Linked DNA regions of Homo sapiens. The protein of the gene in region 2 purifies or fractionates together with the protein of the main gene of each other region. This does not show direct contact. Each region holds a gene or a part of one and is shown on either strand. Other genes may lie near its edges.

Region 1 (4,259 bases), on a different chromosome or scaffold from region 2:
CATAACAGTTTTATACGTATTATAAAATGTTATTAAAATACACATGCACAAATAACTTATTTTATTGCAAATAATGCCTGGCAGCACAGGTATAGTTCCTTTGCAAAATTGTATGTGGGGACTTGGAATTAAAACTTTGAAACCTATACTACTCGGCTGGGTGCGGTGGCCCACGCCTGTAATCCCAGCCCTTTGGGAAGCCGAGGCAGGTAGATCACTTGAGGTCAGGAGTTCGAGATCAGCCTGGCCAACACTGGTGAAACCCCGTCTCTACTAAAAATACAAAAACTAGCTGGGCATAGTGGCACACGCCTGTAATTCCAGCTGCTCAGGAGGCTGAGACATTAGAATCACTTGAACCTGGAAGGTGGAGGTTTCAGTTAGCCAAGATCGCACCACGGCACTCCAGCCTGGGTGACGGAGTGAGACTCTGTCTCAAGAAAAAAAAAAACACCAAACAAACAAAAAACACTTGCACTACTACCTAGTGCTGCTGACTTAAGATTTCTGGGAAAGTCTGTGCATAATTTTGCATGGATAGAGTTAATCTTTAATTACAAGGAGGCAGATTTATGAAGCATTCTTAGAGTCTTACACATACAAATTTTACTTGTTTCATGAGTATCTTGTTTACATATTTCTTTCCTCAGAAAAAATCTCGCAAGAAGATGTGTATCCTGGTGCTTGTCCTGTCAGTGATTATTCTAATCTTGGGACTTATTATCTGGCTAGTTTATAAAACGAAGTGATTGCCTCCGATCGTTCTCCCGCTGAGCTGTTTTCAAGGGCAAGTGCTTGTTGAAGTCTTGCCAGAACAAACTGATCACAAGAAGACAGCATATATCAGAACGTCCTGTAATCATTTAGTTAGAAACTAACTACTAACTAGTCTTTGGAATTCGTGACCTATGGAGACAGTAATTATCAATTTATTGATTCTATTGATTTCTCAAATTAGGAATTAACTTATGTGGATTTTGCTTCCTCTTGTATTCTGATTGCCCTTCATCCCAAGTGTTTACTGAAAATTCCATTCTAGATATTCTTGTTTTGACAAATGACACTACAGTCTCGTAATATTGTCTTTTATGTATATACAAAATTTACCTTTTTACTAGCATCTGAGATAGAGTTACTTTCTGGTACCCAGTATATTGGAGTCTGTCAGAAACTCTATAATAGGCCACCAGTTTTTATTATTTAACATTTTTATTTGAATTTCTAAGAAGCCTATTCTCTATCTATTTTGAAAGATTTTGGCACTATATTTAATTGGAAGGTAAAATATTGTACATGTGATCCAGAGTAAATGAGAAGTCTCTATCTGAGCTGGTCAGTTACTGGAGTACATGTTACTAATCTGGGTTTAAAGTTTACTTCATTATCTGCTAGTGTCATCCACAGCAGTTCATCCTCATCCACACTAAGCCATCCTGTTAGCTTTTAAAGGAAGTTAATTTAATTAACATTAATATACTCTATGGGCTCCCTCTCCCACCTGTCTGCATAGAAAGGCAGAATTAGACATAGCATGCTTTGGAAAAGCAAATAGGAATTGTTGGGAATGATTTAATCTTGTTGTTGTTGTTGTTGTTGTTCACTTGTGGTTCTACATTCCTGGTGAATGATGAATGTTGCTGTCAAAGGGCTGCCCCCTACCTTATAAGGGTTGCTGGGCATTTGAAGGCAGGAAGATTTTTAAAGATAGATTGAGGTTGGTTTAAAATTATTCCTGTAAACCAACAATAAAGCAAAGAAGAGGTTCATTTTTGTAAATAACACTGGTTTCAAATAGTGATGTTAGACTTAACCTAATTTATAAACAAGAGATTAATATCTCCATGCATAGTTTTAGACAAAAAAAGATGTTTCAATAAAATTACTGTCTTGTAATATAAATGTTGTCCACTTCCCTTTTCCACAGGCCTAGAACAGTTAAAGGGAACATAATTTGTTTAGGCTCCCACATAAATGTGAATCTGGCCAACAACTTTGGTTCATCCTTTAGTGAATTAGAGGATTTGGCTACCCTGAGTATATTTATATTCATTTCTTCTGTTCTCCTTCTGTTATTATACTTAATCTTCTAAACTAAACTAATGTGAACAGTAGGGAAGCAAGGGCCCAAATGCATAAGTTTCTTTGCACTGTTGCACTTACTTAATACAAATAAATGTTTTTTAAAGCTTTTGTAGTATGTTTTTATGAGTTAACATCCTAATGTGGTAGGTATTAGGTAATGTGCTGTCATGAGAAAAATTGAGACTTCCAAGAAAACTGGACACCAGGTGAGGGTTGGTTTGGAGACGGAATAGGTGTAGCTGCCTTTCCTTGAAAAACAGTGTGTAGAGATGGCTGAGTGCAATGGCTCACACTTGTAATCCCAACACTTTGGAAGGCTGAGGCGGGAGGATCAGTATATCGGTACGTCTGAGCCCAAGAGTTCAAGATCAGCCTGGGCAGTATAGCAAGACCCCATCTCCATTTTTTTTTTAATGATTTTTTAATTAAAAAAAAGAACAACAGGATAGAGCTGTTGGGGTGGCACAGTGGCCCAAAGAGCAGCTTCAGAGATAATTCCTTGGTTCTATGATCCCTGTTTAACTCCAAATTACAGTCGGACTTGGATACATCATTTGTAACATTGTAGGAAAGAAAAAAGTCTTGGTTGTGAAAAACGATTTGCATTTGGGTAAAATAAAGTGACCATGCTTTTGTTCTGTAATACTGTGTGACCTGTGGTTGTTGTAATGGTGATCATGGAGAGCAAATATGAACTTGGCCTGGATTTTAAATGGCCTAGAATTTGTGGTAGTTGCCAAAGAGGTTCTCCTAGGTGGTCTTAATAAACCTATTCACAGAATTCTCCTTATCTGTGCCTTGATTATCATTGGGAGCATCACAATCTAGGACAGCAGTTTTTAACATGGCTTCACATTAGAAACTAAAAAAATACAGTGCCCACTTTGGCAGCACGTATATAAAATGGGAACAATAGAGAGAAGATTAGCATGGCCCCTGCACCAGGATGACTTGCAAATTCATGAATTCTCTCTCTCTGTCTCTCTCTCTGTGTGTATGTATATATATACTTTTTTTTTTTTTTTTTTTTTTGAGACAGGGTTTCACGCTGTCGCCCAGGCTGGAGTGCCGTGGCACAATCTCAGCTCACTGCAACCTCCACCTCCTGGGTTCAAGCAATTCTCATGCTTCAGCCTCCCAAGTATCTGGGATTACAGGTGCTCACCACAATGCCTGACTCATTTTTTAAAATATATTTTTAGTAGAGATGGGGTTGTACCATGTTAGCCAGGCTGGTCTGGAACTCCTGACCTCAAGTGATCCGCCCACCTCGGCTTCCCAAAGTGCTGCAATTACAGGCCTGAGCCACTGGCGCCTGGCCGAAGTGCTCTATATTTTTAAAAAAATATTCTCTGTGCTCCTCTTCTTGCTAAAAAATAAAAAATAAATACTGATACCTCAGTCCCACAACTCCAAGATTTTAATTTAGTCTGGAGTATATATAGCTTGGGCATAGGGATTTTTAAAGGCCCCAGGTAATTCTTACCTGTAACTGTGGTTGAGAAGCATTGGTTTGGATGTCAGAAACTAGACTGGGGTACAAAAGACCTTAGCTGTGCCGTTAACTTGCTGAGGGTATTTGAAAAAGTCACTTATGGCTGGGCGCGGTGGCTCATGCCTGTAATCCCAGCACTTTGGGAGGCTGAGGCGGGTGGATCACGAGGTCAGAAGTTAAAGACCAGTCTGGCCAACATGGTGAAACCCCATCTCTACTAAAAATACAAAAATTAGCCAGGCATAGTGGCACACACCTGTAATCCCAGCTACTTGGGAGGCTGAGGCAAGAGAATTGCTTGAACCCAGGAGGTGGAGGTTGCAGTAAGCCAAGATCATGCCACTGCACTCTAGGTCTGGGCAACAGAGCAAGACTCTTGTCTCGGGGGAAAAAAGAAAAAGTAACTTAACCTTTAGGCCCCAAGTTTTCTTGGTAGCTCTTTTCCAGCTACGAAATTTTCTGATTATAAGGACCCACGGCAGTTTAGTGTGAACATACAAATTGTATTTTTACCTCTATCTTCCTTTCATTTTCTCATCTCCTTTTCTTTTTTTTTTTTTTTTTTTTTTTTTTTTTGAGATGGAGTCTCGCTCTGTTGCCCAAGCTGGAGTGCAGTGGCGTGACTCGGCTCACTGCAAGCTCCACCTCCTGGGTTCACGCCATTCTCCTGCCTCAGCCTCCC
Region 2 (5,294 bases):
AACATCATGAAAAGACCATCACTGTCTGAGAGAAGCTATTTACAACAAAGGATTAGAATCCAAAGCATACCCTACCCCCCAAAAAACGAAAAATTATACAAATCACTAAAAAAATACACAGCCCAACAGAAAAAATGAGCAAATATACAAAAGTAATTCACAGAAGGGGAAATCCCAATGACCAATATGAAAAATGCTTAATCTCACTAGTAATGAGGACAACATGCAAATTTAAACAATAGTTTTACACCTATTATATTGTAAAAGTTAAAATGTCAGCAATATTAAGTGTTGGAGAGGATATAAATAACAGGTACTCATATACTGCTAGTGACAGTATAAACTGGCATAACTAGGTAAAGATGAGTATGACTTATCGCCCAGCAATTCTACCTCTGGACACACATGCTAACTCTTACACATATATGCATGGAGACACACACTCATGTGTTGCTTAACAATAGGGATACATTCTGAGAAATGTGTCACTAGGTGATTTCATCGTTATATGAATATCATAGAGCGTACTTACACAAACCTATATGGTATAGCCTATTGCTCCTAGGCTACAAACCTGTACAGCATGTTACAGCACCAAATGCTGTAAGCAACTGTAACATAATGGGTAATTGTGTAACTAAACATATGTAAATATAGAAAGGTAGAGTAAATATATGGCATTATAATCTTTTGGGATCACCTTCCTATCTGCAGTCCCTCACTAACCAAAATATCGCTAATGTGGCAATGGCACTCGACTAAAATAATGTACATTCCGGGAAAAATAAAATTGGAACTGCCTAAATTGTCCTCTAATAAGAAAGTAGATGATTGTGGTATATTCACAAAACAGACTACAGAGTAGCTAAGCAGAATTAATTGGCTCACTATATATCCACAGGACTAAATTTCAAAATTATTTTAAGTGAAAAATGCAGGTTGCAGAAAGAAAGATATAGCATAAAACCATTATATACATTTTAAAGACACACAAAGCAATATATTGTTTTTGAGCATAAACATGCATAGATGTAGACAGAAAGAATCTATACCAACTTCAGGACAGTGATTACTTCTGGGAAAGGTCAGTGGTCTCAAGAAGGGATACTGCCAGGTGTGGTGGCTGCCACCTACAACCACAGCTACTCAGGAGGCTGAGGTGGGAGGATCACTTGAGGCCAGGTGTTGAGACTAACCTGAGCAACACAGAGAGATCCTATCTCTAAAAACTTTTTTTTAATTAGCCAGATGTGGTGGCACACCTCTGCTAGTCCAAGCTACTCAGGAAGCTGAAGCAGGAAGATTGCTCGAGCTCAGGAGTGTGAAGCTGCAGTGAGCTATGACTGCGCCACTGCACTCCAGCCCAGGCCACCAAGTGAGACTCAGCCTCTAAAAAAAATTTTTAAATAAAACTAAAAAAAAAAAAAAAAAGGAGCAATACAAAGAAGAGTCAATTGGATCTGTAATGTTCTATTTTTTATTTATTATTATTATTTTTGAGACTGAGTTTCACTCTTGTGGCCCAGGCTGGAGTTGTGATCTCGCTCACCGCAACCTCTGCCTCCCAGGTTCAAGCGATTCTCCTGCCTCAGCCTCTCGAGTAGCTGGGATTACAGGCATGTGCCACCATGCCCGGCTAATTTTGTATTTTTAGTAGAGACGGGGTTTCTCCATGTCAGCCAGGCTGGTCTCGAACTCCCGACCTCAGGTGATCCACCAGCCTCAGCCTCCCAAAGTGCTGGGATTACAAGTGTGAGCCACCATGCCCAGCTGTAATGTTCTATTTTTAAAAAGATAAATATCTGAAGCAGATATCATATGTTAACATTTCTTAAACCTCAGTGGTAATCACATGGATATATGTTATTCACTGTGCTTGTCATGCTTGAAATCTCTTAAAGTGTGCATGAATTATACTCATTCAAAAATACTTAGGGCTTCCAGAAATGGTTACATCTACAAAAGGAATATTTAGTTTTCACTATAAAAAAAAATAAGTTGGAAATTAGTAGTTTAAATCACTAGGAAACTGAAGTCAGTATAAGGTAGCTCTCAGAGCAATATTAAGGATATCAGTACTAAAATACGAAAGAGTATCTCACTGAGAGATTTTCACTTAAAATACCACAGCCAGAGTATAGATGTTTTAAAAAGCATTACAGCAAGTGCTTAGTGTATTGCCCAATGAAGGTATTTGTAAGGGTTCGCTCTTCTGCCACTGCCAAAATTTTCAATGGTAAGATAATATACTTTACCTTATACTTTTGCACCTTAACTTAACTACTTGAAAAAAAGAGTCATCCTATACATAAATTCCTCTGGGTTTCAGAAAGAAGAAGCTATCTAATGATGCTTTAAAGAATTGTTTTGTTTCCTAAAATTCATTGCATTTGAAGATACTTTTAAAAATATCCACTAAAGCGATACACAAAACTAATAACTACTGCATGTAAGACTGCAGAAAGTTGATATACTTTGGACAAACTTTCATTCAGGAAATGGACTACCAAACACTTTATAGTATTTGTTTTGATTTGTAGTACTGCACATGAGCTATCCACAATTTACAGCTTGAGTTCCAAAGTTTCATCTGAAAGTTTGTTTGGTAATGATGTCATTCACCCACAAAATGTTATAAATGACTAGGTTTCTAAACAAAGGCTACAAAAGCTTCTGATATTGATACTGATACTGAATATTCTGGCCTGCCCTAGTCAAAACACTAGATTCGACAAATTTTACCTCTAACATCTTTCCATACCCCTTTCAACTCCTAAGCAAGTTCTCTCTCGTTGGTTCCTATTTCACATTATCTTACTCCTATCTCTGCCAAACAGATGACCTCGACTAGGTTTAAGGACTTATGAAGAAAGAGATCCACTGGCTTTATTTGCACTAAAGTATGTGTATTTTCAGAAAGGGACTGCTGAATCTCCAGTAAGTGAGATTTCTGGCAATTTTAAAAGATAAGCATACAAAACAGTTCAGGCACTGTGGAAAACTTTTCTTTTTTCTTTTCCAGTAGTGGGAAGGTAGTGGTATCTTCTGATGACCTAGAAACTGTACACTGAATAACATCACACATTTTATTCTTCAGCCAATTTCCCAGATAAACTATATACGGTGCTTCATTGGAAAAAACTTCAATTACATAGTGAATATAAATCCCACTTATAAGATGATGTCAGAATATCAAAAGTAGTAAGAATGCAAAATAAACTGTCCCCCACAAAAAGGAAATATAAAACCCATTAAGAGTATCGCAACAGCCGGGCTCAGTGCCTCACGCCTGTAATCCCAGCACTTTGGTAGGCCAAGGCAGGCAAATCACTTGAGGTCAGGAGTTCGAGACCAGCCTGGCCAACATAGCAAAACCCTGTCTCTACTAAAAATAGAAAAATTAGCTGGGTGTGGTAGCACAGGCCTGTAATCCCAGCTACTAGGGATGCTGAGGCAGGAGAATTGCTTGAACCCAGTGAGTGGAGGTTGCAGTGAGCCAAGATCGCGCCACTGCACTACAGCCTGGGCAACAGAACAAGACTCTGTCTCAAAAAAAAAAAAAAAAAAAAAAAAAAAAGAGTATTGCAACAACAACAAAAACATTTGATAAAATTCAACATCCCTTCATGATTAAAAAAACTCTCAACAAATTAGGCATAGAAGGAATATATCTCAAAATAATAAAGTCTATACACAACAAACCCAGAGCTAACATCATACTGAATGAGGAGAGGTGAGATCTTTCTTCTAAAAGCTGGAATGAGGCAGGGATGCCCATTTTCACCACTCCTATTCACCACAGTACTGGAAATCCTAGCCAGAACAATCAGACAAGAGAAAGAAATGAAAGGCATCCAAACTGGACAAGAGAAAGTCAAATTGTCTCTTTGCTGATTATATATCTGTAGGTTTAGAAAACCTTTAAATCAGTAGCATTTCTATACATCAATAAGGATCTAGCCAAGAAAGAAATTAAGAAGGCAATCCCATTTACAATAGCTACCGAAAACAAACAAAAACCTAGGAATACATTTAACTAAGGAGGTGAAAGATCTCTACAAAGAAAACTACAAAACACCAATGAAAGAAAATAAATCAAAAAACATCCTATGCTTGTGGAAAGAATTAATATCACTAAAATGACCATATTGCCAAAGCAATCTACAGATTCAATGAAATCCCTATCAAAATACCAATGTGATTCATATGGGACCAAAAAAGGAAAAAGAAAAAAGCCCAAACAACCAAACCAAACCTGGGCAAAAAGAACAAAGCTGCAGACATCACATTATCTGACTTCAAAATATATTATAAAGCTATAGTAACCAAAACAGCATGGTATTGGTATAAAAATAGACATGTAGACCAATGGAACAGAATAGAGAATCCAGAAATAAAACCACATAATTATAGACAAATGATCTTCAACAACACTGACAAGAACTCACACTAAGGAAAGGACACTGTCTTCAATAAATGATGCTGGGAAAATTGCATAACTTCATGCAGAAGTGTGAAACTAGACCCCTATCTCTCACCATATACAAAAATCAACTCAAAATGGATTGAAGATTTTAAGACCCAAAACTATAAAAATACTACAAGAAAGTCTAGGGAAAACACTCCTGGACATTGGTGTAAGCAAAGAATTTATGATTAAGACATCAAAAGCCCAGGTAACATAAAGAAAACTAAACAAATGGGACTTAAGCAAACTAAAAAGCTTCTGCACAGCAAAAGAATAATCAACAGAATGAAGAGACAACCTGTTGAATGGGAGAAAATATTTGCAAAGTATTCATCAAGCAGAGGACTGATATCCAGAACATACAAGGAACTCGAACAACTCAAAAGGAAAATAACAAATAATCCCATTAAAAAAGAAGACATACAATGGCCAAAAGAAGACATGGAAAAATGTTCCACACCACTATCAGAGAAATGCACATCAAAACCACAATGAGATATCATCTTACCCCAGTCAGAATGGCTATTATTAAAAAGACAAAAAGTAACAGATGTTAGTAAGGATGCAGAGAAAAGGGAACTCTCACATACACTGTCGGTGGGAATGTAAACTAGTACAACCACTAAGGAACACTGTATGGAGATTTCTCAAAGCTAAAAATAGAATTACCTTCCATCCAGCAATCCCACTACTGGGTATCTACACAAAGGAAAAGAAATCAATGTATCAAAGGGATAGCTGCACTTGCATGTTTATTGCAGTACTATCACAATAGCAAAAATATGGAATCAACCACCTAAGTGTCCATCTACAGATGAATGGATAA

Evidence for each region. Proteins that work in one complex are often made in the same cells at the same time.
Region 1: the proteins of NSF (region 2) and STX12 purify together in Homo sapiens (co-immunoprecipitation; 4 studies listed by BioGRID and IntAct, with this or other methods). This does not show direct contact.

Annotation. Positions count from the first base shown.
Region 1 is NC_000001.11:27,821,581-27,825,839, forward strand, and holds the end of STX12 (syntaxin-12), read left to right. Parts: intron 1-650; coding exon 651-749; 3' UTR 750-2,863; downstream 2,864-4,259. UniProt on the Homo sapiens protein: SNARE promoting fusion of transport vesicles with target membranes. Together with SNARE STX6, promotes movement of vesicles from endosomes to the cell membrane, and may therefore function in the endocytic recycling pathway.
Region 2 is NC_000017.11:46,596,072-46,601,365, reverse strand, and holds part of NSF (vesicle-fusing ATPase), read right to left. Parts: intron 1-5,294.